4 linked regions of the Homo sapiens genome follow. The protein of the gene in region 2 interacts with the protein of the main gene of each other region in a pairwise test. Each region holds a gene or a part of one and is shown on either strand. Other genes may lie near its edges. The genes, in order: TPTE2, LMTK2, PPM1F and STYX.

Region 1 (3,156 bases), on a different chromosome or scaffold from region 2:
TACCAAAGATTACTTATCTTCATATTTACCACAGTCTTCTTACCCCAACCCCCATGTCTGTGTGTAATTAAAGGAAGCTTGTCAAGTAAGCTACCTATTTAATGCTCGGAATGAAAGAGAGTGTGTGTTGGGAGTTGGGGAACTGCTTATGTGAAACATTTCTCTCTTCTGGATTTAAAACTTAGTCTTGGTTGCCAATCTGTTAACAGACTGTTTGTAAATGAAGGGGAAGAAAAATATATAAATTAGCTTTCTAATAAATCTGAAATTACAAATGTGAACCAAAGCAGGGAATAAATACTTGACCAAAAATATGTAAGTAAGTGGGTGTTGGGGAATCACAATTTTTAAATATCTCAAGTTTTTGCCATGAAAGTTCTATTTCAAAGTTCTTCAAAATGATGCCTGATGTTCCTGCATACTGTGTTCCAAATTTATGTAAATACAAGATGGAAAGTGTGTGAAGTATGTGCCTTCAAAAAAGAAGAAAAACACTGACATTTTATCTATATATATTTAATAGATTTATGAAGAACATATATAAACATATATAAATATAGATGCATCATCAAGGAAGACTTAGGACACATGAACATGTGGCAGGGGTTGGAAAGAACATAATTCTTTCCCAGAAGGGGAAGGGGGAGCTATACTTAGTCGGATCCAGCTACAACATCATTGGAAGTCATTTCTCGCCAAAAAGTATCTCCACAGCAAATTCTGGTGGATAAATTTTCCATGCTTTTTGTTTATGTGGATTATCCAATTCATTTCTTGGTAGACAAAGCCTAAGAATAGAAAAAAAAAATTACATTTTATATTGGGGCTCACCAAAAAGCCACGCAGTTGGGTACCCACGTTAGAGCTGGAAGAAACAAAAAAAAACCTCACCATGAATAGAACCCCAGACCCTTTTTTGCATTTCAGTTGGCTCCTTCCACCTTTTTAGTGAGACTTAAAAATACTTTAATCTTCAGCAACACATCAGTAACACATGCTGACTCTCTTAGCATTGCTTTATATGGAATTAATGACATCCAAGTTTAATAAAATATCTAAATTTCTCTCTGTGACAGAAATCAGTCAGGATAGACATGAATGAAAACCCAGGAATAAAATACTATATCTCTTTTAATTTATGTGTGAAGTTGCAATTTTTTGAATTTTTACAATCAGACCTTGGAAATGACCTTGAGCAGTAGGCTATAACTCCCATATGCTTAGCGTTCCAATAATGGAACACTAGGCATAAATTGGTTAACCCATTTATGCCTGGTGTTCTAAATGATAGAAGTTAGCATTTTTGGCTAAACAACAATCTCATAACTAACAAAAACAGCTTTACCAAGTAGTATGTAAATTTAAATGTTACAGAAATCTTTAGAAATTTATATAAAAGTAAGAATAAAAGTGATCTAGCTTATCACTTCTCCAAAATGAACGCAGTGTTTTAAAGGAAAAAAACGGTATCCTTTAGCAAGAACCACTTTTGAGGAGCAGCATCAAATGAAGCTCCACCCAGGTCTCACTTTTTGAGGGACTTTGCTCATGTTAGAAGAAAAAGCTTATTGTTTGTATGCATCTAAAAAAAATACTTGTAAAAAATTTCCATCAAATCCAAAGTTGACTCTATCAAAATCCATTAAATGTTTTGCATTGCAAGTGTGTAGACCAGAGGTTTAATTTCCTGTTGCCTTGCTGGACTTAAGGAGTTATTCGATCCAGTTCACGTTTGAAGAAAAGATTAGGACTGGATGTAACAATAACTATCAATTCATGCCACATATAATCATAGCCACTTCTTCAACTCTGACCTAAATCATTTAAAAAATATTTTGTCCTTTTGTATTGAAGAGTATGGTTGATACAAAAAAAAATCTCAATTTTTCACCATCACAAAACAAATGCTACTTATAGTGGAGAACTTCTAGACTGAGAAATGTGGTTCCAAATATGGCAGGTTTTTTTGGAACAATAATCTCCAAACCCAATTAGTAATTTTTCAGAAAGTTTTCCCAATTCAGTTATTAGAAAGCCACATTTGAATGGCTATTTAAATAGACTATTACTTAATGATATTTCTTAGCTGTATTCCTTAATACTGTGTCTTGTAACTTCTCCCAGATATAAGTGTGTCCGTCAGCTTTTCAGCTAGCTGAAGCCTCCCTAGGTCCTGCCTTACTTTAGCACAAAAGTTGATGGTGGTTCGTCATTGGTAAATCAGCACCTACTGACAGGGACCTGACATACTGAAGGTGCTGAGCAGACTCATATTGAACTTCTCTGGGAGGAATTTACTACCAAACTTAAGATCTGATGATAATACTTTTGAACTCATAACACAGTCCTATGGCATGGACCCTGAGGATACTGCAACAGTGGGTCTCAAGAACAAATGTATTTTTAAAATAACCAAAGTAAGAGGAGTAAGGCAAGGAAAAATGGTGGCTCAGGGATTTTTTGCTTTCTATAAATTAAGTTTATGACAACCAGCAAAAGACTTGCCATTACACCTTATTTATAGACATTGAAGATTAGGCTGTTTCTATGGGTTTCTATTATATTCATACCTGTTATTTTGAATAAAAGACGTGTTGAACCAGAAGAAAAATGGACAATTGTCATAGTATTTAGGAAGATTCTAAAAAGAAAAAAAATTTCAAAGTAAAACTGACACCAGGAACTAATCATTCCAAAGAAATTAAAGTTCCTTTCTTTATTCCTTTATATATTTATCAAACAATTATAACCATTAAATAGGTAGCACTCTGCAATCTATAACAATACACTCAAGACACAAAGGAGGAGGCTTTAAGAAAATGCTATTGCATTCTCTTGCTGTTTCTATCAAAATTTTCAAGGAATAGTGTTTTTCCCATGATAGGTCTTTAATTTAAATGCTGCTATTTGAATCTGGTTTAGATAGTGCCAAACAGATGCTACTAAGGACCTATGCCTATATATACCCAACTACATTGTAGTGAATTCTTATAATTTTTTTGTTGCCTCAGCATCCCTTTTAATTATAAATTGTATTTTCTGATCTCAGAAGCGGGGTTCAGTCACCCTCAGCAGTTTCCAGTTCACCTCCTCCCAGTTTCTCCATGTGACTGATCCTGATATCTGCCTTATACAACCTTCTCCTGATGACCACTT
Region 2 (8,975 bases):
CTTGCAGATCTTATAGTTAGATGGGGTTTTTAAAACTCTGTTCTGAAAAATCTGCCTTTTAATGGTATGTTTAGATCATTTACCTTTAATAAAATTATTGATATTTTGGATTTACGTATACCATTTTATTTGTTCTATTTTTATTTCTATTCTTCCTCTTTTTAATAAATTGAACATTTTTAGTATTACATTTTTCTTTTTCTTTTTTTTTACACTGTTCTCTTTGCGTAGTTTTTGTAGTGGTTGTTCTGGGGGTTACAATGTATGTATTAAACTTCTCACAATCTACTTAGAATCTGTATTTGCATATTTCAGATGGAATGTGGAAACCCTACTGTCACTTAGGCCTTTTGCCCTCCGTCCCCTTCTTGACATGCTCTTCTATGTTGCATACATGTACACTGATAACTCCTCAGACAGTGCAACACATTTGACTTTCTGTCATCAAACACATTCTAAGAAACTCAAGAGGAAATGAATAGTATTATACAGTTGGCCCTGGAGCAACATGGGTTTGAACTGTGTGAGTGTACTTATAACATGGCTTCTTTTCAACCCAAAACAGATCGAAAGCACAGTATTCTCGGGATGTAGAACCTGTGTATAGATACGGAGGGCTGACTTTTTGTATATGTGGGTTCCGCAAGGCTAACCACAGGACTTAGTATGCACAGGTGTGGTTATGCACGGGTGGTCTTGTCACTGATCTCTGTTCAGATCGTTTCTGGAGTTGTCCCTTGGTTTCCAAGAAGTGGTGGTTCCATAATTTGGATACCATAATTAGAGGCTGCCCAAGTGCTTTATATGAAATGGCATCATATTTGCATATAACCTACACACATCCTCCTGCAGACTTTCAGTCATCTCTAGATTACTTATAATGCCTCATACACTGTAAATGCTATGAAAATAGTTGTTATACTGTATTATTTATTTTGTTGTTGTTGTTGTTGTTGTTATACTGTTATTTCTTATTTGTGGTTGTTTCTGAATGTTTTCTGTCCTGGTTGGTTGACTCTGAGGATGTGGAACTCTCTGATCTGGAGGGCCTCCTGTCCTTCTGTTCTTTTTCATTATTGATGTTCTAGGTTTCCTTCTGGAACCCTTTCCCTTCTAATTAAAGAAATTTAACTAGCTTTTCTTTTCTCTCTTTTTTTTAAAAACCCATTTTTTTGCAGGATTCCTTTTATTTTTAAATAAATTCTCTTAGTTTTTTTTTCCATCTAAGACTATTTCACACTCATTCCTGAAGCCTGTTTTCTCTGAGTGTAGAATTCTGTGTTGATAATTGTTTTCTTTCAGCATTTTAAAAATGTATCCCTTCCTTCCACCCTCCACGGTCTCTCATGAGAAATTTGCAGTCACTCAGATCATTCTTCTCCTAGAAGTACAAGTGGAGCGTCCCTTATCTGAAATGCTTAGGACCAGAAGCATTTTAAATTTCTGATTTTTTCAGATTTTGGAATATTTGCATTATACTCACCAGTTCAGCATCCCAAATCTGAAAATTTGAAATCCCAAGTGCTCCAGTGAACACTTTGGGCGTCATGTCAGCGCTCAAAAGGTTTTGGATTTTGGAGCATTTTGGATTTTTGGTTTTCCGATTTGGGATGCTCAAGCTGTAATACATGTTTTATCCCTGGCTGCTTTCAAATCTTTGTCTTTAGCTTTCAGCAGTTTGATTATGGTGCATCTGAGGGTGGATTTCTTCGTGTGTGTGTTTTGTTTTGTTTTGTTTTGTTTTGTTTGAGACAGAGTCTTGCTCTGTCACTAGCTGGAGTACAGTGGCACGATCATAGGTCACTGCACCCTTGAACTCCTGGGCTCCAGTGATCCTCCCTCCTCAGCCTCCTGAGTAGCTGGGGCTACAGGCGTGCACCACCACGCCTAGCTAATTTTTAAATTGTTTGTAGAGACAGCATCTCACTGTGTTGCCCAGGCTGGTTTTGAACTCCTGGCCTCAAGGGATCCTCCTGCTTCAGCCACCCAAAGTGCTGGGATCACAGTTGTGAGCCACCCCACCTGGCCCAATTTCTTTGTATTTATCCCGTTTTTGTTTTGCTAAACTTAAATCTGTAGTTTTGTATCTTTCACCAAATTTAAGAAGTTTTCAGGCATTCTTTTCTTCTAGTACTTTTTCTGCCCCACGCCCTGTCTCCTCTCTTCCTGGGACTCCAGGGTTAGACCCTGTGTATTCTCTCATAGGTTCTGAGGCTCTGGTCCTTTCTTCCTCCAGGTTTTTTTTTTCTTGCTCTTGTTTGGATTGGGTGATTTCTGTTGCTCTGTCTTCAAGGTCCCTGATGATTTCCTTCGTCATCTCCATTATGCTGTTGAGCCCATCCATTGAATTGCTAGATTTTGGTTATTATACTTTTCTTTTCTGAGTTTTGCTTTTTGTCATTCTTCTTATCATCTGTTCCTTTGCTAAGATTTTCCCTATTTCTGTTCATGGTAAGAGTGTTTCCCCTTAGTTGTAGGAGCATTTTTATAATAGTCCTTTTTCAGATAATTCCAACATCTGTGGTACGGTGACACTGGCACCTGTTGATTGTCTTTTCCCAGGTAAATTGAGGTGTTCCTGGTTTTTGTATGTGAAGTAATTTTAGCTTTTGGATCCTCCTATCATGTTAGGCAGTCTGTGCCATGTGTAAATGCTGTGAATCATGTTGATACTTTTACCTTAGCAGGCCTTGACCCGGTGGGTGCAGGCCACAAGCTCCAAGCAGCCTTCTGTGGGTTGTGGTTTCAGTGTCAGCTCCCAGTTCCCCTTTCAAAGCCTTCGCTGTGCTGTTTGAACCTGCCCCACGTGTGTGCCCCGCACCCCACCCCGGTCTCCCCTGAGGTTCATTTTCAAAGCTTGGGTGTGTTCAGAGTCAGATCTACCACACACAGCCCAGGAGCCCCCCAGCAACTTCATCGGGTCACCTTTTTGAGCTCCTCCCTCTTCTGTGATGTCCCTGATACTTGCAGTTCTTTGGGCCTCTGCTTTCTGGTCCCCTAGCTAGAAAGTTGAGGCTTTAGTTACACGATGTGCCATACTTCCTGCAATCGCACGCGCATCTGGAGCCAAGCAGTGGGAGGACAGAAGGGAAAAAAACTCAGCGAGGGTCCCCTCCCGCTCGTGATCACAGTCCTCCAGTGGAGAGGAGGCTTCATGGCCCTCAGGATTATAGGCAGCTGTTGCCCCAGGATTGCTTGAGACTGGAGAGCAAGAGAACAGAGAAAAGAAGAAAGCTGGAATTCCCCCTTCTCTTTCTGAGCATCAGAAGACCCCCTTCCTGCTCCGAAGCCAGAACCAAGGGCTTCTCCTGGAGCACTGTGTCCAGGGCAGTGCCCACTTTGGATTCCGGGCTGACCTGAGTCCAGGCGGGGGATTGTGGAGGAGAAGCCGACACACTTGTTGCTGGTGGGTGGCACCTTGAGCACTGCCGCTCGTGCCCGCCTGCCTGCTGCTCTGCGCTTCTCTGCAGCCTCAGAGGGCTGCTTCATGCCTCTGCCGAGGTCAGAGCTGCAGGCAGAGGGAGAGACAGGGCCTAGTGTCTGTCCGTCCTCCCAGGCCTGGAGCCGCCCTTGTCTTGAGACGCTTACTTCTCAGTCGATGAGTCTGATGCGCCTGCCAGTGGGGAAGCGGTCACACGGGGGGTTCCCGTGAGCAGGCCTTTGCTGACAGGAGTTTCTGTTTGACTTTTCAGGAGACCCCAACCAAAGAGCTGGGGCCCTGTGGAGGAGAGGCGTGCGGCCCGGACCTGAGCGGCCCAGCCCCAGCCTCAGGCTCTCCCTACCTGAGCAGGTGCATCAACTCCGAAAGCTCCACCGACGAAGAAGGTATTTCACGTCATTGTCTAGTTTTAAAGGAAACTGAAAAATTGAGTAATGTAAAGGTTTTTTGAGGGTAACTTCCCATGTTGCTTTAATGACGCCCCCTGACATGGGCACAGAACTGCCATCTGCCAGCCGGGCCGGGCTGTGTCTTCCGACCTGCAGGGCGCACCTGCCCAGAGGCTCCCCCTCTCCCTCATCACGCAGTGATAAAAAGGGTGGGGTTTTATTTTTTATTTCTAGGTGGTGGCTTTGAGTGGGATGATGACTTCTCCCCAGATCCTTTTATGTCAAAGACAACAAGTAACCTGCTCAGCTCCAAGCCTTCTCTCCAAACATCCAAGTACTTTTCTCCGCCGCCACCGGCCCGGAGCACGGAGCAGAGCTGGCCGCACTCGGCGCCTTACTCCCGGTTCTCCATCTCTCCCGCCAACATTGCCAGCTTTTCCCTCACACACCTGACCGACTCGGACATCGAGCAGGGCGGTGAGAGGCGCTGCGTGCTGGGGATTGGGAGTGCAGGGTCGGGGGTGGGGCGCTGCAGCTGGGAGATGGTGGTTTTGCAGGCCTGATAATCTCATGTCTTCTTCACATTTGCTGAGTAGATTACAAACTTGTTTTTATAAAACTCCCATCATCAGCTGGGTGCAGTGACTCCTGCCTGTAATCCCAGCTACTCAGGAGGCTGAGGTGGGAGGATCAGTTGAGCCTGGGAGTGTGAGACCAGCCTGGGCAACATAGTGAGACCCCATCTCTAAAAAAAATAAAAACTAAAAAATTAGCTGGATGTGGTGGTGTGCACCTGCACTTCAGCTACTCAGGAGGCTGAGGTGGGAGGAATGCTTGAGCCCAGGAGTTCAAGGCTACAGTGACCTATGATTGTGCCACTGCCCTCCAGCATGGGTGACAGAGCAAGACCCTGCCTCTAAAATAAATAAATAAAACTGCCAGCATCCTGAGTGTGCTCTCGGGGCCATGCCCCCTGCCTGTTGTGGTCACTCTCAGGCTCGTTACCGGCCACCCTGTGGGGCCAGGCTGAGGCAGAGGGGCTCTGGGTCCCAGGAACGCCCAGGCTGCGCGCCATCTCCTCTTTTTCTCCTGTGGCTGCATAGTCCCTCCTCCGCACTCTGTCTCCTCCTTTCCCAGAGAGAACCTGCTCTTCAGCAGGCTCGTAAGAGCACTTGACCCCTGGACTTGGGACCAGCCCACATGCCCTCTGGTGCTGCCCCTGGAATGTTGGTTTTGCTGCTGAGTCTTGGTCCTGGTGTGGCTCCCGAGGGCGGGGTGGGGTGAATGGGCAGGGGCCATTTGAAGTCGAGGTATCTGAACATAGGGAGCCTTCTTTCCCCGTCACTAGATTGAAAGATAAAGGTTAATAGGCTCATTTTTTGATTGGAAGTTTACAGATCAAATAATAAATATGGAATACAAAGAGGCTTTATTTCCCTCGGCGCTAGGCTTCATTTGTGCCGATTAGATAACACCTGCTATCTGCCAGTCTGTCGGGGCAGATGTGTGGATCCCAGCTGACTTCTTCTGCACCCTGACCCTTAGCGCCCAGCGGGCATTTGAGCCTAGCAGATGTGGGAGAGTCAGGCAGGGGCTGCTTCCGAAGGAAAGGACAGGAAGGGCGGCTCAGGCGGTGCTGGGCTCAAAACACCCGCTTCCGTTCCTGTGGTGCAGCGCACATGCCATCCACGCCATGCCTGTCTGATCATTTTAAAAACCCAGCTTTGTCGTCTCGCTTCCTCTCTCCTCAACAGGAAGCAGCGAAGACGGAGAAAAGGACTAGGTGGCTGCCAACGCGCACGCTCGGGTCCGAGGCTGCTCCCCTGGAGCGGCGCCCCTGCGCCCTCAGCCCGAGCAGCGACATCCACTCGCCATTTGCTGACATGAGATTGGGAGGAAGAATCCAGAGGTGAAGAGGGAGACGGCTCTTAGCTGCGTTCAAGGCGGGGCCCTCGGGAGCCCAGGTGCAGAGCGAGGCCGTGTCCAGGAGCCGGCGTCCCTCAGTGCCCCGTGCACCCGCGGCCGCGGCCTCCCAGGCAGTGCTCATGCGCTGGCCGTCGGGGGAGGCAGGGGCACAGCCTCCATGTGCGCGCGCGTGTGGAGCTGTGTGCACCGCATGTGTGCTTTCCACAGGGGCGTCTCTGCGTCCACGCCTGCACATCCCGGCGCACGTGTGGGCACCACAGAGGACACGTGAGGGGAATGGTCACCAGTGAGCCATATTTATTATTTCTAGAGAAATCACGAACTGCTTTCTGTAATTGCACTGTGGATAAATGTTCCGAGAGTCTCCATTGTTGTACAGGATCTTCAGTTATTCGAGGGGAATGAGGCAGGTCAAGCCGATGCTAGCCACTAGTTTGATTTTTTTTCTGTTTTATAGTTTGCGCTGCATGGTACTTGTGAAGCTTAAATATTTTGAGTGTTCTACTGTGTCTAGGATTGTTGGGATTGTACATATGGTACTCTTTCATAAATGATAAATGATTCTGAATGTTAGTGTTTTATGTTCATATAGGAAATATTTTCATTGAGTCCAAAATACCACTGTTTTGTTGATGGACTTGAATGCATTTTTGTCTCTTCTTGATGAAGCGGCTTTGCCGCAGCAAATGAGGCTTCTCTCTGAGGAGCTGAGAGGTCTTGCAGCCTCTCCTTGTCATTCTCCCACCCCACATCCCATTTTTTAAAGCCCTTTTGGTAAAAACCAACAGGTTGTGGCCGCAGACCTCAGATGGACCCGGCCCATCCCTGGGGACGTGCTGGCGTGGCAGGTCCAGAGAGCTGCACCCTGCACGGGGCACCGCACCGCTTCCCTCCGCGCAGCTCTTCTGCCTGGTTTTCGGAGGCCAGGCTGCTGGGAAGCTTCCGTGTTCCTGTCAGTCCTTCCTTCAAGAAGCCGGGGAACTCAGGCAGACTCATCTCCGCAGAGCATACCAGCCGTGGGGGACCGTTCGACTTGATGATGTGTGCACACTTCAGGTGGTGGGGACTTGAGCTTTAAAAAAACCTCCACAGCCGAATCTTCTCCTCCGAGCCACTCCACGTCACGTCCAGCTGGGCCTGGCCAGTCTGTGGTTATCCATGTGGGATGAGATAACACCACATCCTGCAGCTGTGAAGGGGGATGGACAAGGGACGACGGCCGACGGCAGAGCATCAGCAGCCGACACATAGTTCGGGTCGGGGCCTTGGGTGGTCCTGCATGGCCCGGGACTCATCTCACGGACCCTCCGTTCTGCATTAAGCCCCAGGTTCTCTTCTGGCTTTGAAAGGGCCCGAGTGCTCCCAGTGTAGCTTCGTCACATCGTCACGAGCCCCTGTGGTCATGGGCGACCTCACACCTCCCTCCCTGAGTTCTGCTCTGACATAAGGAAGTCCTCGGTGGCTGGTGCAGCGCGGCTGTGCTGTGCTGGGGAGGCAGCCGTTCCTTCGGGGGTCCTTGGGCCTGCAGTCCCCTCATACTCACCCTTCACCCAACATATTTTCCGGTGCTGATATGTTTCCAGACTCCAGCGCAACCTGGGGTGCTCTCCAGACCCGTGCAGGGGCCGCCTGGGGTACACGGAAGGAAGTTGAGTCCTAGTGCAAAATGCAGGCGGACGTTGCCAGAGAGTGCGCAGCAAATGACCTTCATTGCCAGTTCCACCCTACTCCTCTCATTTTTTATACTAAGCAATAACTTTCCAAAGCAAGAAGTTCAGGATGGAGAGAGTCCCCTCCTGTGTAGGCATGGGGTGGATGCGGTGCCCACCTGGGCTATGTGGGGAGCACCACTGTCTCGGGATGCGCGAATTTTTTTTTTTTTTTTAATTAACAGGGCATTAGAAGATGATTTTGCCAAAATTGTCATGACTCTGAATTCTTGCTGTGGGGACTTCCTGAGTTTTCTCAGTTTTTACATCTAAGATTAGTCTTGGCTGAAGAGAAATGAGACGTGATTATACTACTTTTTCAATTGCAGGTTTAAGGAGTTCAGATTTAATGACCAAAGTCATACAGATCATGGAATCTGTCGTCGTCTTATACAGTGTCAGCCTCGAGTACATTTATTAACCTTTTGGGGCTGTCAGTTTTCCACTAGGATTAAGATTTTGGCCGGGCGCGGTGGCTCACGCCTGCAATCCCAACACATTGGGGGGTCGAGGCGGACGGATCACTTTGAGCCCAGGAGTTCAAGACCAGCCTGGGCAACATGGCGAAACCTCGTCTCTACTAAAAATACAAAATATATATATATATATATATACTAGCTGGGGCACATAGTGGTGTGCACCTGTAGTCCCAGCTGCTTGGGAGGCTGAGGTGGGAGGATGGCTAGAGCCCAGGAGATGGGTGTTGCAGTGAGCTGAGACCATGCCACTGTACTCTAGCCTGGGTAACAGCCAGACCCTGTCTCAAAAAAAAAAACAATTTTTTTCATAACATAATTCCCATTTTTATTTATTTTGAGTCACTCATAATTAATTGCCAAAAAAGCATTTTATACATTGAGTTGGGGGGTAGTGGATCTTAGTGTGGTGTTGCATGGAGGGGCGAGATTTTATATTTATAATCAACACGTGGGTTAACATGTTTTTTTGAAATCCAAGCAATACACAGGAAATTTAAGTAGAATAAAAATTGCAGCCCATTTTTGAAATGTCAGCATGTGCTGTGTTCAGTTCAGGTTTTTGTTGTTTGTTTTGTTATTTTTTAACTAATAAGTTGGTTATCAGTGGTGGGTTTTCAAAATGTACTTGTTCTAATAAGTTGTACAATGAACTAAATCAGTGGCATTCTCTAGATAATGTGGGGGAAGGTTAGAATATTTTCTGGCCTTCTATGGGGTAGCAACCCAGAATCAATCTGAATTAGTCCTGTTTTGGTGGAGTTTGTACATTTTAAATCCTATAACAAAAATAATCTAGTTTTCATTTCCTTACTAGCTAGATGCGAATTTGTCTTTTTGAATGACCCTGTCAATAAGCCAGAAAGGGCAACCCAGAAAAAGTGCTCCCCACATCCTTCTGAGACTTGGCCTGTGTGTGTGGACGAGAAGCCATTCACCGTAAGGGTGCAGAAAGCTCGACCAAGCCGAATTGCAAACAACGTTCGTTCTATTTTTAAATGTACAGGTTCGATCGTTTCTATAGAAATGGGTTTAT
Region 3 (8,975 bases), on a different chromosome or scaffold from region 2:
CCGGCTCCCCGGGCTCGCCCCTCTAACCCTGGCCCTGAACCTGGGTCCTCCTCCCCTCCAGTGGCTCCCACCTCCGTCACACACTGGCCAGGCTCAGTCTGGTCCGGGACTAACATATCCCCAGGCTAAGGGGTCTTGTCCCATTCCCCCTGAGTCTCCTAGTCACTGATTCTTGATTCTGTTTTTTGTTTTGTTTTTTTTTTTTTTTTTTTTTTTTTTTTGGAGACAGGGTCTTGCTTTGTTGCCAAGGCTGGAGTGCAGTGTCATGAACATAGCTCACTGCAGCCTCGACCTCTAGGGCTCAAGCCATCTCCTGCCTTCGCCTCCCGACTGCCCAGCGCCCACCCCCTCAGCAGCTCTTCCCTCTGCTCCTCAAACCTCATCCTCTCCACCTGCCTGAAACAGCTTCCCAGGTCAAAGCTGGAGCCGGTGGCCTGTGGGTTCCTGTGAACAGCCATTTCCTGCTTCCTAGGAGTGCAGTGCTCCACACGGCCAGGCCGCAGCAGCGTCGCCTATGGCACTGCCATCCTCCTGGATGCCCAAGGCCCTCTGCGATGTCTCCACCTGCAGAGCCGGGACTCCTATCTCTCCCAGGCTGCCTGCCAGGCGTGCCAGCGTGACCTGTGACCTTGAGTGACTCTCACTGCCCTCCTGAACTCACTTTTGTGACCCAGCCCTCAACTTGTCCTCCAGTGGCCTGATCACTTCAGAAGCTTCTAGTGAGTCCTTACAGAGTTCCTCCCAGCCTGGGGCAGTCCAGCTTTTCCAGCTGAAGGAGCAGCAGGTGGGTGGTCTTCTCCCCTGCCCCGAGTCTTCTACCCACTGATTCTGGGGCTTGTTTTTGTTTTTTGAAGACAGGGTCTCACTCTGTTGCCAAGGCTGGAGTGCAGTGTCATGAACATAGCTCACTGCAGCCTCAACCTCTAGGGCTCAAGCCATCCTCCTGTCTCCTGAGGCTTGAGAGGTGGGAGGATCACTTGGGGCACACCTCCACACCTGGCCCTGATTCTGGCATAACCTGCCCTTTCCTCCTGGTCTCTCCCCTGGCCTGCAGGAATTGCAACTGCCTGAGATGCGGCTCCATTCCATTCATCTCTCTGCCTCATCCTGCCAGGTCCTTGCCCTCCTCCTGCTCCCCCATTAGACTTAGAGGCAGGAAGTGGGTCCTGTGTTATCTCACTGCCTCAACAAAGTATCTTGTGCAGAGTGGGCACTCAGTGTTTGGAGGCTGAACTGAGTGCAGAGGCAGGAGACTGTTCAGACAGCCGCAGAACAAGGCAGAGCACCACGCACTCCCCCCACGTACTCCTGGAAGCTGCTCTGGGCCGCTGCTGGACCCCCGTTGAAGCTCGCCAAGTTGAGGCCAGTTTCTTGCTCTTGTAACCGACATGATGCTTGTTTTTGTGGGAGAACCTTGGCCTGGATCTGTGATTAATTCTCTAGGGTGGAAGGCTGTGATCAGGATCACAGCAGGAGGGGCCAAGCCTACAGAGCATGGCGGCAGGAAAGGGGAGGTGGGGGGCACTGGATCTGAACTCCTTGGCCCATGCGGGCTGCAGCCAAGAACACAGACACCTGTGTGTGCTTCTCTTGTGCAAGCTCTGATCTCTGTGCTCCACATGCACTGGGACACTCAATCCTTACCCCAAACCTCCAGGGACCCCTGTGTGATGGACTTGGAAGCGGTGGAGCCGGGACCAGGCAAGGCCATCTGTCCATGCTCTGCCACGACGCCATACTGCAGGACTCAGGCAGTGTTTGAACAGAGCCCCCACTGGGCTTTAATGGGGTGCTGAATGCTGAGCCTGTAGGTGTGCAGGCAGCAGGTGGGAGTGGGCCCAGCACGAATCCTGACTTGGCCACATTTCATCTGACTGCATATCCTGGGGAGGAGAGCCCACTAGGGAGCAGGTGCCAAATTCCCCCACGGTGGTGGAGGCAGGGGAGTGGCAGAGACTATCTGTGACTTTGGCGGTGTGCTCTGGGCAAGTGACTGAGCCTCAGTTTTCTCCTCTGTACAATGGGGAGAGGACGTACAGGGGGCCCATACCAGACCGTGAGCCGCAGTGAAAGGCCAAGGAATGTAGCTGCCCCTGACTGTTACAATCATCAAGTCCTGGTGTCTCTATGTGCTTTCCAAACCAGAAGCCACAAAAAGACTACTCAACTACAGAAAAACACAAAGCCTCCATGTGGCAAAAGCCCATAAACAAAAATAAAAGATGCATGGAAAAACATTTGCAAATCATCACAGACAAGGAACCAACCTCCTTCACATATACAAGGAACCTATAAACTGATAAGAAAAACAGGCAAAGGAAAAAAACAGTGTTTGCAGGAAAGGCTGTGTAAATGATCTTCAGCTTTTGAAAACACGCTCAAACTCACTCTGTAACAGAAAAGCAAACTTAACAATTGCCCCAAGACAGGCTTCTTACCTGACAGGAAGAATCCTGCAGCCTGGTGAGACTGTGGGGAAATGGACCTTCTTGGGAATGTAGTGCCAGCCCAGGCTGGCATGGCCTGAGGTGGGAAGCTTGGCAAATCTACCCAGACTGTACGTGCATCAGTTCCAACCTAGCCATCCCACTTCTGGGGATGTGTCCTACAGATATAGGTACACTTGACTCTGAGCAATTAATGCTGCACAAAGTAGGTAGAGATGCATTGTTTTTAGCACCGAAAGACTGAAAAGATCTTCATGCTCACCCACAAGGGACTGCATGATGAATGCAATGTCCGCAGCCCCAAGAAAGGATGGGTGCTCCTATGTGCTGACGTAGAATTATCCACCATGTGCATGGTTAATCAAACATAGCTGGTGGAGAACAGCACGTGGGAAAAGTGGGGTTTGAGGGATAAACAGTCATTCCATGATATCTGAATGCTCGCAATCCAACCTCAGGAGACACATGGATGAGACAGTCTTCTGAGAAGAGGTCTGAGTGGGACTGTCATCCTCATGTCCAGGTGATGACCTGAGTGCCAGGGTCCCAGGCAGCCTCTAGTCAGTACAGCCCCAAGCCAGGTTCCCTCCAGCCTCGGGGCAGCATCACCTCCCTGAGGCCTTCCTCACCCACAGCCTGTGGCCTCCTTGTCCGTGTGTATGATGGGCTCTGGTCTGCACTGGGCTGCACTGACTGCACTGGGATGCCTGTCAGTGCAGAGGGCTCTGCTCTCCCCCGGAGCTCTGGGCTCCATATAGCTGTGACCCACAGAGCTCTCAGGAAGGGCTCACGTGGGACCCCCGGCCACTCAAATCAGGCAGGGAGCCCTCCCTCTTGAAAGGTGCCAGGATTACTACTACCTGAAGTTCCCAGGCTGGGTGGGGTTCCCCTATGGGCCCAGCATGATGGAGGCCAGGAATATCCTGGGCCTGGGCGCAGGGATCCCCTTACCTGCCGTTCTGGTCTGTGTGGCTCCATCAGCTTCACCACCTGTCCCTGCTGTACCAAAATGACCTGGGAATCCCCGAGCCAGGCGACGTGCAGGGTCGCTCCTGCAATGAGCGCACACACACCTGTGGTGCCGCTCTGCAGCCGCTGCAGGGAGAGAGGGCCCATGAGAGTTGAGAGGAGGTAGGGAAGGGCAGAGGATGACACGGGGCAGGATGAAGCTTCCGGGGGTGATGAATACTTCCGTTACTGTGGTGAGGAATCCACAGGTGTATATGTGTATAAGCCAAAACTTGCCAAATTGTGGACTTCAAATATGCACCACTTACTACCTGTCAATTGTATCTCAATAAAGATGTTTATTTATTTATTTATTTATTTATTTAGAGACAGAGTCTTGCTCTGTCATTCAGGCTGGGCTGCAGTGGCACAATCTCGGCTCAGTGCAACCTCCGCCTCCCGGGTTCAAGTGATTCTCCTGCCTCAGCCTCCCAAGTAGCTAAGATTACAGGCGTACAGCACCACGCCTGGCTAATTTTTTGTGTTTTTAGTAGAGACGGGGTTTTGCCATGTTTCTTTCCCAGGCTGGTCTTGAACTCCTGAGCTCAGGCAATCTGCCTGCCTTGGCCTCCCAAAGTGCTAGGATTACAGGCGTGAGTCACTGCGCCTGGCTATTTATTTATTTAGAGGCAAAATCTTGCTCTGTCACCCAGGCTGGAGTGCAGTGGCACAGTCTCAGCTCACTGCAACTTCCATCTCCTGGGCTCAAGTGATTCTCATGCCTCAGCCTCCCAAGTAGCTGGGACTATAGGCGCGTGCCACCATACCTGGCTAATTTTTTTTTTTAATTTTTAGTAGAGGCAGGGTTTCACCATGTTGGCCAGGCTGGTCTCAAACTCCTGACCTCAAGTGATCCACCCACCTCAGCCTCCCAAAGTGCTGGGATTACAGGCATGAGCCACCGCGCCTGGCCAATTTTTGTATTTTTAGTAGAGACGAGGTTTCACCATGTTGGCCAGGCTGGTCTCGAATTCCTAACCTGAAGTGATCCGCCGGCCTCTGCCTCCCAAAGTGCCGGGATTACAGGCGTGAGCCACTGTGCCCAGCCTCAATAAAGCAGTTACGCCTGCTTCAGAGAATCCCTTTTCTACTCTGAGGCTGCCTTGAGCTCAGAGGCCTTTGTCACTTCCTGGGGCTGAGGTGAGAGGCCAGGAGTGGAGGCTTGCCTGCTTTTCACTGGGGTCCTTGCAGCTGCAGAGATTGCATGGTTTTCTATTGAGATGCAAAGCCTGGCTCTGCTAATTTCCATGAAGGTCTGTGCTCAGAGCGTGTGACAAAAGTGCACCTTTCCCCTGGTGTCTTCTCACTGGGGCGGGTCTTTTAAGCAACCTGAGCCTCAGTTTCCCAATGTCTAAAATGGGTACAATATTAGTATTCACCTCACAGGGCTACAAGGAGGACCTAGTGAAATTCTGTGGGTGAGGTTCAGAGTGGCTAAGTTCACAGAGGAGGGGCCTGATGCATTTGTATTCTTTCTTCTTTCAGAAACAAATGCCTCATCCCTGCACATGGCTATAACTCCCGAGGAAGGATTGTTCCCAGAGGACGTCGGTAGCCTGCTGAGACCCTGCCTAGAGGAGGAAGGGGAGGAAGGCAGTAGATTAATCAGGTTTTACATATTCCGCCTTTTATGATGCTTTGACAACTTGGGGCCTTGCTGGTCCTGGAGGGGCTGCCCCTTCCCAGGCCAGCTGATTCCTCGAGACAGCAAATACCTGGGGAGGATGCAGAGACGGCTCTGGCCCAGCTTCCCTCTCTTCTCTCTGCGCCCCGACTACCTCAGTGCTTTCCATGCATGGCTCTGTGAGGCGTGGCCCCTCCTCTCAGGAACTGTGAGTAGTAGACTCTTTGTTAAGGTCCTGGTCTGTGTCTGTCACCTTGCCATATCTCATTAAAACAAAATCCCAGGAACGCTTGACCACAGCTGCCTTCCCCGAGGCCAGCAGACCCTCTGCGCCAGGCAGGTCTGTGTGGCTGAGAGGCCCACCATGCTGGGTCGGGGCAGGCTTTGTGCTGCTTCCGTTCAAGTGAAAACCAAGCCCCTTTAGAAAAAATGGCAGGACCACCGGCAGTGTTTAGTGAGGACCTTCCAGCACCACCAGCCCCTTTGGCGTTTTTCCCGCTGCAGAGGCTGGGACTCTCACTGGCCTCCAAACTGCACCTGAGGCCCAGCGGCCAGTCCTCACCTCTCGCTTGGCTTTCCTGAGAAACATCTGGTCGGTGCGCCGGAAGGCTTCTCTGAGGGCTCCCTCAGGGTCTGTGGGCAGCTCTGGCTGGCGGGCAGCGTTGGTGTGCACGTGGACAGCGGCGTACCTCGCAGCATCCACGCCTCCGTGACCATCAAACACAGCAAAGTAGGCGCGGTTCACAGGGTCCTGGTGGGGATGTGGTGGGAGTCACAGACCCGCGGGACCCAGGGTGCTCCCAGTGGGGCGTGGCGCCAGGCACTGATGGGGTAGAGTCTGGGAGAATCAGTATGGCCTTCGCCCGGCTTATGTGCGTATGAGGGGGTAGGTTTGGAAAAGGACAGCTCGCGGGAGCCTCGGTTTCACCATCTGTTATGAGTTGCTACAAGCATAAAATGAGGGGCTGCCCCAGGTGGCTCCTGGTGCAGGAGTCAGGGGAACGTGGCATCCAGGCCTCCCTCATAACAGACTCACACTGTTGCCCTTCTTAGTCTCTTGCTGGGCAAGTACAGGGGCTGACGGGTGTCTCTCCTGTCTCAGCCTTGGTGGGCAGCTCTTCTCGGTACCTGGGGGGCCCCCACCCTCGCCCCGGTCCTCCGAAGCTGTCCCCAGGGTCTGGACGGGAGCACTCACAGACAAGCCGAAGAGCTGGTTGAAGGAAGGGAGGGACACGTGCCGGTCCTCCATCTTGCGGCGAGTGTTCCGGATGGCGTGGATGGAGACCAGCCACTGCCGCTGTGAGGCCCGGGCAGCCAATGGCACCTGCTTCTGCCACTGGCCGGCGACTTCCCAAAGGCGGTTAAAGAAACTCTGTGCCAGGCTTTGGGCATCCAGCACTGATGGGCACAATGGAGGGATTGTCAGGGAAGTGCCAACCAAGCCAGCTGAGGCCTCGCTGGCTCCCTGACAGCTCCCACAGGGGCCTGCAAAGCCCCCATCACCTCCCGGGGCATTGTGAGCACATCAACTCAATAACGCGCACATGGCAGCCTGTTACCAGAATTAGAAATGTCTAGTTTGGCAACTTGCCCCTTGAAGTCTCCCATCCCACCATGGAGCAACTCTACTCATGGGAACCCACCCTGAAGAAATCATCAGAAACACAAAAATAATTTTAAAGACAAAGTACAGAATCACTTATAATTGCCCATTAATTAGAAATACTATATATCCAATGACAAAGGAATAATACTTAAATTATGATCTAGTCTCGGCCAGGCGCAGTGGCTCACGCCTGTAATCCCAGCACTTTGGGAGGCCGAGGTGGGCGGATCACCCGAGGTCAGGAGTTCGAGACCAGCCTAGCCAACATGGTGAAACCCCGTCTCTACTAAAAATACACAAATTAGCCAGGCATGGTGGCGGGCGCCTGTAATCCCAGCTACTCGGGAGGCTGAGGCAGGAGAATCGCTTGAACCTGGGAGGCGGAGGTTGCAGTGAGCCGAGATCATGCCATTATGCTCCAGTCTGGGCGACAGAGCAAGACTCTGTCTCAAAAAAAAAAAAAAAAAAAAAAGATCTAGTCTCTTGATGAAGAATTAAGCTGCTATTAAATATGATTTTCATAACGAAATATGCAACTCCCATACGACCCCACCGTGGCACTCCTGTGGACTTATCCCAGAACAATGAAGGCTGTTCACATAAAAGCTTGAACACATGAACACAAATGTTCATAGCAGCTTTATCTGGAACAGCCAAAATCTGGAGTCAGCCTAGATGTCCTTCAACGTGGAAATGGTTAAACAAACCGTGGTCGACCCATACCTTTGAATACCACTCAAGAATGGCAAAGAATGAACTCCTGATGCATCAAACAACCTGGGCTAATCTCCAGAGAATTAAACCAGTCCCCTAAAGTTACACATCATATGCTTCCATTTATATGTGTTCTTGAAATAATAAAATGGTAGAAGCCGAGAAGATTAGTAGTTGCCAGTGGTTAGGGATGGGGTCTGTAGGGGTGGGGGTATAAGGGTGGCCTTAAAAGGGTGACAGGAGGGATCCTGGTGATGGAACTGCTCTGTATTTTGACCATGTTAGGATCCTGGTGGTGATATTTTATTATAGTTTTGCAAAATGTTACCATTGGAGGAAACTGGGTAAAGTATACATGGAATCTCTTTGTATTATTTATTACAACTGCATGTGCAGCTATGATTATCTCAAAACAAAAAGTTTAATTAAAAAAAACTAGCCCAGGCATAGTGGCTCATGCCTGTAATCCCAGCACTTTGAGAGGCTGAGGTGGGAGGACTGCTTGAGGTCAGGAGTTCAAGACCAGCCTGGATAACATAAAGAGACCTTGTCTCTTAAAAACAAACAGGCTGGGCGCCATGGCTCATGCCTGTAGTCCCGCGCTTTGAGAGGTAAAGGCAGGCAGATCACTTGAGGTCCGGAGTTCGAGACCACCCTGACCAACAAAGTGAAACCCCGTCTCTACTAAAAATACAAAAATTAGCTGGGCGTGCTGGCATGCACATGTAGTCCCAGCTACTTGGGAGGCTGAGGCAGGAAAATTGCTTGAATCCGGGAGGCAGAGGTTGCAGTGAGCCAAGATTGAGCCACTACACTCCAGCCTGGACAACAGAGCGAAACTCAGTCGCAAATGAACAACACCAAACCAAAAAAAATTAGCTGTGTGTGGTGGTATATCTACTCCCAGCTATTCGGGAGGCTGGGGCAGGAGGATCCCTTGAGCCAAGGACGTCGAGGTTACGGCGATCTCCGATTACACCACTGCATTCCAGTCTGGGTGACAGAGGGAGACCTGGTCTCTTAAAACAGAAAACTAAAAAATGGATTTTAATAGAGTTTATAAGCATGTAAAATGCTTCTGTCATGATACTAAGTGAAAAAAGAAGGAAAATTACATATGCAGTTTAACTACAAGTCCATGAAAAACCACCAGGGCCAGAAAAAAAAAAAGGCGGGAACAGCACACAACCAAGGTGTCAGAGTGGGCCTGCACGTGGCAGTTCCACGGACAGCTTTTTCCTGAAGTACACTTTCTTAATACTTCCCCAGTTTTTCATTACAAGTGTTAGTCTCGTGTGACAGTGGCTTTAAAGCATGTCCACAAATTCTTTGACTTCCCCTTTTGCGAGGTGGAGCTCACTTCCCACTGCTGAGTGTGGGAGCTGGCTGCTTCTGATGAAGAGTGGCAGTGACTGCGTGTGCTTCAGGTGTTACGAAACAAAGAGGCCCTGCGCCTCCCGCCTTGTGTATTCTCACTCTCTTCCTCCCTCCCTCTCATCGCTCAATCTGAGCTGTGAGGATGCTCAAGCAGCGCCACGGAGAGTCCACATGGGACGGGACCAGGGCCTCCTGTCAG
Region 4 (8,975 bases), on a different chromosome or scaffold from region 2:
TTTAGTGGTGCCTAAAATAATGGTATAGTTGTGAGGTGATCTTAGATTTGATGAAGCACAGTATGCAGGTAGGCCTAATGGGGGAAGATGGTAATATAAAAGCAAGAAGTATTTTTTTTTTGTAATGACTGAAAGCTGTTCTGTGGATGACCTACCCTTTCCTTTAAACACGATTCTCTCACTTCCAACTCCAAACTTGCTCAACTAATCCTTAAAAATAAACTTGAGCTGGAATTTGAGGCTTGCCTGGACTACAGACCATAATTTTGTGTGTGTGTGTAACCACAGTGTTTTAGAGTATACTCTTAAGTGCTTCTCAACATTCAATGTTCATCCACTCTTCTTAACTCAGAGTAAATTTGGGTTACTTTTACCCAGCAGATAACAATCTAAGTAAAGAAGTTTTGAGGTATAAGCAGCAGTATGAATGAGCTTTTCAATATTTTGGAGGTATAATGGCACAGCAGTTTTAATACAACCACCAATCTTCACAAAATAATTTTAATACTTTGTGCCTGGGCTAGCAGCATCTTGCACTGTGACATTCCTATACAGACATAAGCATTTTATCCAAGTACAAATGTTAAAAGCAGAGTAACTTAAGCAATTGTGTATACAAAGGTATACAGACACTGTAGGTTATTTTTCTTCTTGAATCATTTTTGCTGCATAGTAAATTGCAATTACATGTCAGTATAATGTTACTGATCTATAGAATACACTTTGAACTGTGAGGTATGGCAGCTCCCTATGAGAGAGAGCTAACATGTAAACCTGAATATTTTGAGTGATTTTTGTTTTAGCTGCCACAGATGGGAAAGACAAAAAAAAAAAAAAAAATTCCAGCATTCAAAGACCCTAGAGACTTACTTTTCTAATCAATTAAAAAAAAAGGTCTTTCAGTACTTCTCATCTATTTTCTAGCATTCCCTTATCGGAGCACTGTTGAACAAAGAAAGAAAGAAAATACTGAGGTGAAGCTATGTTTGTTATGGGATTATGGATTAAATCAGTTATTTAAAAAAAAAAAAATCCGCCAGGTAACTGCTCATTTACTTTACATCAAGTTGAGATCTTGATACATATATATATATATCTCAACTTTATAATTCAAGATTGCAGTTAAATATTTCTAATTCACTTGAATTACCATATTAATAAGACAATTAGAAACCTTATATTTTCTTAATACAGACATGCTTAACATTTTCTGACATTACTTCTAAACTCAGATGAAGCATAAACTCTCCCCAAAACTGCTCTAAAAGTTAAGTGGTTGAGTTGGTAGCAAAAGCTATCATGGTTTAACATTTCCACCACAGAGTAGATACAAGTAAAGGTCACTGCAGTTTAAACATCTAACAGGTAAGAAATTAACATGAACCAACTAACTGAAATTAGAATACTGCCATTCCATGTTTGAATATTTTCAATACTCAAGTTTCATATTTTCAAAATGGACAGTAATACAGTTTCCCTATGTTTTGATACAATTTCACTATAAATTATGGGCCCAGATTACACTTTTAATGTTGGAATTGGGTGGTCACTCATACATTATTTAAATACTCTAGAAGATAAATCATGATCAGTTAAATTTATCATAGTTAACTATCACAAAACATCAGTGGTAATAAAAGAATCACAGAAATGGAATCAAATAGAATAAAGAATAGGAAGAGCTACCAGAACTACTTAAACATTAGGTGGACAGACATGCAAGAAAAAACAAACCTGTAATGTTCTTATATGAAATAATAAACTTCATGGTTTGTCTACATTAATATTGTACTCAGCCAGGCGCAGTGGCTCACGCCTGTAATCCCAGCACTTTGGGAGGCCGAGGTGGGTGGATCACTTGAGGTCAGGAGTTTGAGACCAGCCTGGCCAACATGGTGAAACCCCATCTCTACTAAAACTACAAAAATTAGCCAGGCATGGTGGCATGTGCCTCTAACCCCAGCTACTTGGGAGGCTGAGGCAGGAAAATCACTTGAACCCAGGAGGTGGAGGTTGCAGTGAGCCAAGATTGTGCCACTGTACTCCAGCCTGGGTGACATTAGAGACTCTGTCTCAAAAAAAAAAAAAAATCTATCTATCTATATATATATATATACACACAGAGTACTCAAGATGATGACAGTCCCTTTTCCCAGTGTTTGTGAGAGACTGTAATATACAGTACTGGGCAGGCACTTCAGTGACAACATAAAAATTACAGTGGATAGAAAATGTGGAAAATTACCAGCTACAAATTATCAATAACAAAATCTGTTCTTTTGGCCAGACTACTAGAGAGGATATATGTATATTTATGAAACAAGTTTTTAAAACCTAAACTTACTATTATGAAGATTCTTTTAAGCAGAGTTTCTGCTAAATGAAGCATCATAGATTATTATTACACTGTAAGAGATCTTTGCTGACCTGCCCAATAGTGATCTATATACAGGAAAGCTGTGTTATCTGGAACTTTTATCAACTGGAATTTTAGAAAACCCAATGCGAATCTTGACTCCACTAGACCACTGTACATCAAAAGACCTAATCACAAAGCAGAATACTGGACGACAACGAGATTAACAATATGCTGTTTTCACAGTGGTAAGATAAGAGAAGGGAAGGGGAGGGAAATCAGAAGAGAAATATCACCTGGGTCAATAGGAATTAACTCTTAATTAACAATTTTAATTAATCTCCACTCTCCCACTATGCTGGGTAAGAAAGCTTTTACTGTATTATCACATCATAGAGAGGAAAGCAAAGCAAGTAACTTGGTGTAATAGGTTACTTTGCATAGTACCTCTTGGTACCAAGGGAACATACAGAAATCATTCCCATTAGTAAAGCACCTCAAGAGAGGATTGAGAAAAGTTAGATACAAAGGAGTTTTGTTTGTGCTACCCTAAAGTCATCAACTATAAAAAGTTAAAAACACTCCTCTCTTCCCTTACATACTTAAAATAGCAAAAATGTTTTCTTAGAACTTTTATACACACAAACTAAAACATAGCCAAAAATCCATAAAGTGACTTTACTAAAGCAAATTATGGGGCAGATCTGGACTAACTGAATGTCAAGAATGGATTAAAATGCTAATTTAAAATACACTAGTCTCCCACAAATCACCTTCCCCAAAGAAAAGCTTCTGTTTGAGCCGGAACAATCTCACAGAATCATTAAGACAACATAAAAAGAAAGAGTAAACATTCTATATTCCAAATAATTTACTAATATTTCTTCCAGCCTCGTACTTTCAGTTTAAACTAATTTATGGTTTAAAAAGAAAGGAAATTACACAAAAATGTTAAGAACTTTTCAGTGTTCTACATACTAATTTAGAGGCCATGAGGATTTAATTATTTTTTTTAAATGATGCAAGGCACTTTTCTTTTTTGGGGCTTCATTTAGAAAAAAATAATGCTACATTGGTTTATTAGATTCTATTTAGAATCATTTTGGACAAAGGAAAAAAGGGCTGGACAACTCTGAAAAGAACAAATACAACGTTTGGCTTTTACTGCCAAAAAATGCAAAAAGGAAAGTCACTCGAAAATCTAACACTATCCTTGTGTTTAAGCACTTGGTACTATAAATCAAAACGTTTTCCTTTTATCATGGAAACTGTAGTTTTTAAAATATAGAAAAATTAGGAAAGTAATAAGAAAGGAAGCAATAATTAGATCAAGTTAAAGTAAGGACAGCTAATTAGGATCATGATTTAAAGATTAATAATGGAAGAAGTATAAAAAATAAAATGGTAATTAAGCTATTAAGTTATACTAAAAAAGAAATGTGGCAGATTCCTGCATTTTGTTAATGTTTCTGTAAGAGGCTCCATCATAAAATTGAACTGTAAAATTATGTTAAAAATGTAATATATAGAACAGAAAAATGAATTTTTAGCAAACCTTAGCAAATTTTGTTATAAATTACCCAAACTTTATAAACAATCCCCCCATACTTGCATTTTGTTTAAAGTAATAACTTTATATCATACAAATAAATTTCAAGTATGAAAAGTGCATTATTGCAATAATACCTCTTTGCAAGTCCAAAATTCTTGGTTTATAATAAAACTTGTAAAGCATGTGTGTGTGCGCGCGCATGTGTTTTTAAAAAAAGGAGTAAAACCATCAGTGTCATCTATTGCAGAAGTCCAACATCTTAAAATGTTGCTCAACAAGTTGCAGAGAAGTATGTCTGGAAGCAACATGTAATTGAAAAAAAAACTACTTATGTTTTTACCATTTTACATTATAATTTTCTCTTGTATTTTCTCCTTCCCAAATAGAAATTCACACTCTATGATGTTGCTCTTCAAGTCAGCCATTCTGTGCAGTCGCCACTTGCATGGTTCCAAAATCATCCTCTTCTTCATGTGTTCTCTTCAAACTGCCTAAAAGTTATTGCATGAAGATTAAAAGGGCACTAAAATAAATTCATGTTAAAAGGTTACAGCAAGTAAAATTTTGTTATTAAGTGATCATGTATACACTATGAAAATTCCACAACTGATATAGCAAAATTTAGTAAATTCCTTTGTGATAAATTACCTAAATATTATAACTTTTTAATCTTCATGACAGGATATATTTTCCTTCTCAAGTATTATGTCTTAGGTATTGCATATAAAATAAATAATTTTTGAAATAGTGTGAAAATAGACCTTTTCAAGAGATAATACATAAATGTTTAGTTATCAAGTTAATTGTTTTTTAGGCACCATAAACATGTGACTTAGGGCATAAAATTTAGGAAATTAATCTTGTATTTGTATAATTTTTTGTAGATAATCTTTTTGCTTTCACAGAGGCTGTTATGAAGAGCAGCTGAAAATATTTTTCCACTCAAGCTATCGAAGTCTAGGTTGGGAGAAAGGAAGGCATGTAGCATATAAAGAGATTTTCTTTTATCTATTCTTCATACCAGCATCTGCTAGTACAGAAATCTCCCACATAGAATCAAAGCTATCTCTGTATCCCCAAAAGTTATAATCAAGAAATTAGACTCTCAATGGAGGAAAACTTTAGGGAACAGTTAAACCAGCAGAGGGTCTGCTGTGTTTTTTGCCTAACAATGGCATGACCTTAAACTTATGCCCTACAGGACTGTTATATCATGGTAATAATAATGTTAATTCAGAGGGCATATTCTAATTGAAGAATGTTTCACTATAAAATTCATAAAGATAAAAATATAGTATCAATACAATTGAATGAGATAAAATATCCTAGCCCTCAGGCTAAACCCAGATACTGTGATTAAGTTTCAGATGAAGTGCTGTGCTTCTATGGGAACTCCAAATGACTAGGGGTTAAAGGAAGAGTGCATTAATCATCATGTCTTCCTGAGGAGATGACATATGAACCAAGAATAGGGAGACTAAATGTGATGCATTTTAGGTGGGGAAAAGAAGACACACACAGGAAACCATCAGCAGTTGTTTTCTGAAATGCAGACATAAAGAAGAACAATGAGAGAAAGAAACCAAAAAATCAGAAGGGCATATGGCATTCTATAAACTTTTGTAGGAATGAAGCCAAAGGAGGCTTTGGCAAAGGAAAAATATCAATATTAGAAATATCTTTCATGGGAATAAGTCTGGCCACAATGTACAGAACAGACCAAATAACAAGAGTTTGGAAAGGAGGCAAATCCGGACCTGAACTAGATTAAGGTCACTATTAAAAAAAGGAAGGAATGTTAACAATACTGACAAAACGGACCCTATAGGATGTGGAGAGCAATTATTAGACAGATGTGGCAAAGGAAATGAAAAAGTCAATGACAATTAGGAAGTTGAGCCTTGGGGATGAATATACAGTCATATTACTCACTATGGGCAGTGCAGTAGAGTGCAAAGAGTTCTATACTTGTGGATCAGATCACCTGTCCTCAATTTCCAGGTCAGTGCTAAGTATATAAGCTGTTCTTACTACCTTATATAACTGTTGGTTCAAAGATTGAAGTGAACTGCAGGGTAGGAAAAACTGGAAATAAAGTAAAAATGCCTTGTGTGCTTTGTTGGGAGAGAAACAAAGGTGATAAACACAGGTAGCAAGGTCTTGGGAAAGGAAGATTTTAAGAGCATGCTTGGATTAACTTTGAAAATAAGGGGCTTAGGGTACTTCTGAAATAGCAACAGAGGGAGGAAAGGATGGAAATATTGATGGCAAGAGAAAGAAGCTCACATTAGCCATGCTACACGCTGTATTAACCGCCCTCTACTTTTAATAAGATCACCTAAGCGTGTTTAGGGCCCCTTCTCCAGATTCGTATTATTTTAATCTTTACAACACGGATGTACTACTACTTGAAAGACTTAAGCTTATTATAGTACACATTTATTCATTATAAAATGAATCCTTCTGGAATTAGCTCAATAGTTTAACAAGTTTTCTAAACAATTTAAATTGTTCAGTGTAACTTGTAGCAAGTTCTCCACCTTTCATTATCTTTCTTCCCAAATTTCTCCAAAAAGAAAAAAATCCTTACCTGTGGTACCAGAATGAACAGATAATGACCTTTCTATCTGGAGTGGTGACATCATCTGTATTGTTAATTTTGCTAGGTAGATGGCTTCATATTCCTAAAAAAAAAATAAGTTAATTAACTTAATTATATATTTACATTCTTGGATACCCAAAATAGTGATTAATGTATACACTGTTGGTATTCTTCATCTGTATTGAAAAATCTAGTGCCATATTGTTTGAAGAGAAATGGAAGTTTAAAATTCCTGTCTCATAAATTCAGAACTACTGATAACTATAAATCAAGCCCGGCTAATAGTTTGTGCTAGGGTACTGCATGCTGAACTGCCAGTCAGTATGGCATTAGCTATAATGATCTCTGACTTCATCTGTTTAAAAAAACCCCAAAAAACACCAAAAACTTAAATTGGCAATCTCAATAGTCCTCTGCTTCCAGTTATAGATAGAAGAATAAAGGCATTTTTGTTTCTCTCTTTTCTGAAAACAAGGAAAACATTTGATGAAACTAGGAAACATCCATTACCCTGAAAATGAGAAGAATGAGGGGAAAAGGAATTGATTACCAGCTACGTCAGGATAGTGGTTACTTTACAGAGGGAGAAACAGATTTGTGCCTGAGAAGCGGCATGAAAAAGGCTTTTGGTGTCCTGGTAAACATTCTGTTTCCATACTTCGGCAATAGTTACATGGATGTTTATTTACATTTTATGCATTTTCTATATTATAATTTCACAATAAAATTTTCAAAAAAAATAGAACCATCCTAAGCTAGGCATAGCAGATAACTCCTCTGTGGGCCAGAGTAGGTACAGTTCATAGCTCGCTAAAAAAGGTGACCTAAAATAAAACCAACAAGCCCTTGCATGGTATGACAAAGTCAGGAAATATGAGTGGCCTATGGGAGAAGGTGGGACATATTAAGGAAAATGTGAACACCTACACCTGCCATTTTTTGCAAGCAGCAGGCTGTTTAAGTATGGTAAGGCGGAAGTGAAATTTGGTTGCATGTAGCCAAGCATCAGTTGATCTTGGATAGCTAAAAGTAAAGGCTAAATCAGCAATTCTAGCCTGGATATACATGAGAATCACCTGAGGCACTTTAAAACCTATATACCTAGGCCCCACTCTCACAGATTTTGATTTCATTGGCATGGGTAAGGATTCCCCAGGTGATTCTAATATGAATCAGTGTTTATCAATTTAAACAAAATAAACCTGTGATATAAGGAGCTCTGCTTCTTACTCACTGATTCATGCCACCAAAGGAACCTGGGAAAATTCAAGCTGTCAGCCTTCCCCAACCACTCCTCTGGCCCCTTTCCCACAATTTTATTCTTGGGTAAATAGCTGATCTAAGACGAATACCTCCAGTTCAAAGATGACCAATAATCAAGAAGGAACCAGTTAGGTCTTACTCAAAGATTTTGCAAGAAAAAACAAAACAAAACAAAACAAAAACAGAAAAGCAAGAGTATAACCAAATGTCATAAAGAAAATGCCATAAAACTTATACCATGAAGCAGATGAAAACTATGAACAAATTAATCAAAGAAAATATGGCAGTTATGGGATTGAATGTTTGCATTCCCCTCATAATTCATATGTTGAAGTCCAAACACTTAATGTGGGGACTTTGGCAGGTGATTAAGTTGGGATGAGGTCATGAGAGGACTGGCCCTATGATGAAATGAGTATCCTTCTAAGAACTATGCTCCCACCTCAAACCACTTACACTTATTCCTCTACCTCAAATGCTTTTCCCCAAATACGTGCATCTCTTTAGGTCTTTGCTCAAATATCACTTTTCAGTAAGCCCATTTCTGACCACCCTTCTAAAAATACAATTCTCGTCCCACCTTCCTTACATGGCCTTATTTTTCTTGGATTCATTACTTCTGGCCTACTACATTTTGTTTGTTGTCTGATTCTCCCACTAAATAAGTTTCGTGAGGTCAAGGATTATTGTCTGTTTTGTTCTCTGCTTTACTGTCAGTGCCTAACTAAAACAATGCCAAATAAATATTTAATGAAACAATGCAGCATGGGACATGGAAAACAAACGTGAGAAAAATCAAGTGGAAAAAAAAAAAAGAACAAAGCTGCAAATAATTACAGAGAAAATAGCAAATAACAAAGAAAAAAGGGAACATAAACTATACCGGGGTAAGGGGTATACTAAAAAGAAAAAGAAACAGAACAACCAAAAGGGTAAATACACAATAGAAGACAACTTTCCTGAAATCAGGGAAGGCTTGAATTTGCAAGTGGTAAGGGCACACTGTGACTCAGAAAAAAACTGATGTAGAGCAATCAACAAGATACATCTTGGCCGGATATAGTGGCTCATGCCTGTAATCCCAGCACCTTGTGAGGCCAAGGTGGGAGGATCGCTTGAGCCCAGGAGTTTGAGACCAACCTGGAAAATATGGCAAAACCCCATCTCTACCAAAAATAATTTAAAAAACTAAGCCAGGTGTG

Evidence for each region.
Region 1: the proteins of LMTK2 (region 2) and TPTE2 interact in a two-hybrid assay, tested with the Homo sapiens proteins (one study listed by BioGRID and IntAct).
Region 3: the proteins of LMTK2 (region 2) and PPM1F interact in a two-hybrid assay, tested with the Homo sapiens proteins (one study listed by BioGRID and IntAct).
Region 4: the proteins of LMTK2 (region 2) and STYX interact in a two-hybrid assay, tested with the Homo sapiens proteins (one study listed by BioGRID and IntAct).

Annotation. Positions count from the first base shown.
Region 1 is NC_000013.11:19,422,377-19,425,532, forward strand, and holds the end of TPTE2 (phosphatidylinositol 3,4,5-trisphosphate 3-phosphatase TPTE2), read right to left. Parts: intron 2,642-3,156; coding exon 2,571-2,641; intron 789-2,570; coding exon 686-788; 3' UTR 501-685; downstream 1-500. UniProt on the Homo sapiens protein: Acts as a lipid phosphatase, removing the phosphate in the D3 position of the inositol ring from phosphatidylinositol 3,4,5-trisphosphate.
Region 2 is NC_000007.14:98,199,882-98,208,856, forward strand, and holds part of LMTK2 (serine/threonine-protein kinase LMTK2 precursor), read left to right. Parts: intron 1-3,692; coding exon 3,693-3,825; intron 3,826-4,062; coding exon 4,063-4,305; intron 4,306-5,582; coding exon 5,583-5,611; 3' UTR 5,612-8,975. UniProt on the Homo sapiens protein: Phosphorylates PPP1C, phosphorylase b and CFTR.
Region 3 is NC_000022.11:21,927,750-21,936,724, forward strand, and holds part of PPM1F (protein phosphatase 1F), read right to left. Parts: intron 6,478-8,975; coding exon 6,275-6,477; intron 5,831-6,274; coding exon 5,642-5,830; intron 3,543-5,641; coding exon 3,399-3,542; intron 1-3,398. UniProt on the Homo sapiens protein: Dephosphorylates and concomitantly deactivates CaM-kinase II activated upon autophosphorylation, and CaM-kinases IV and I activated upon phosphorylation by CaM-kinase kinase. Promotes apoptosis.
Region 4 is NC_000014.9:52,766,457-52,775,431, reverse strand, and holds the end of STYX (serine/threonine/tyrosine-interacting protein), read right to left. Parts: intron 6,593-8,975; coding exon 6,499-6,592; intron 4,400-6,498; coding exon 4,326-4,399; 3' UTR 443-4,325; downstream 1-442. UniProt on the Homo sapiens protein: Catalytically inactive phosphatase. Acts as a nuclear anchor for MAPK1/MAPK3 (ERK1/ERK2). Modulates cell-fate decisions and cell migration by spatiotemporal regulation of MAPK1/MAPK3 (ERK1/ERK2).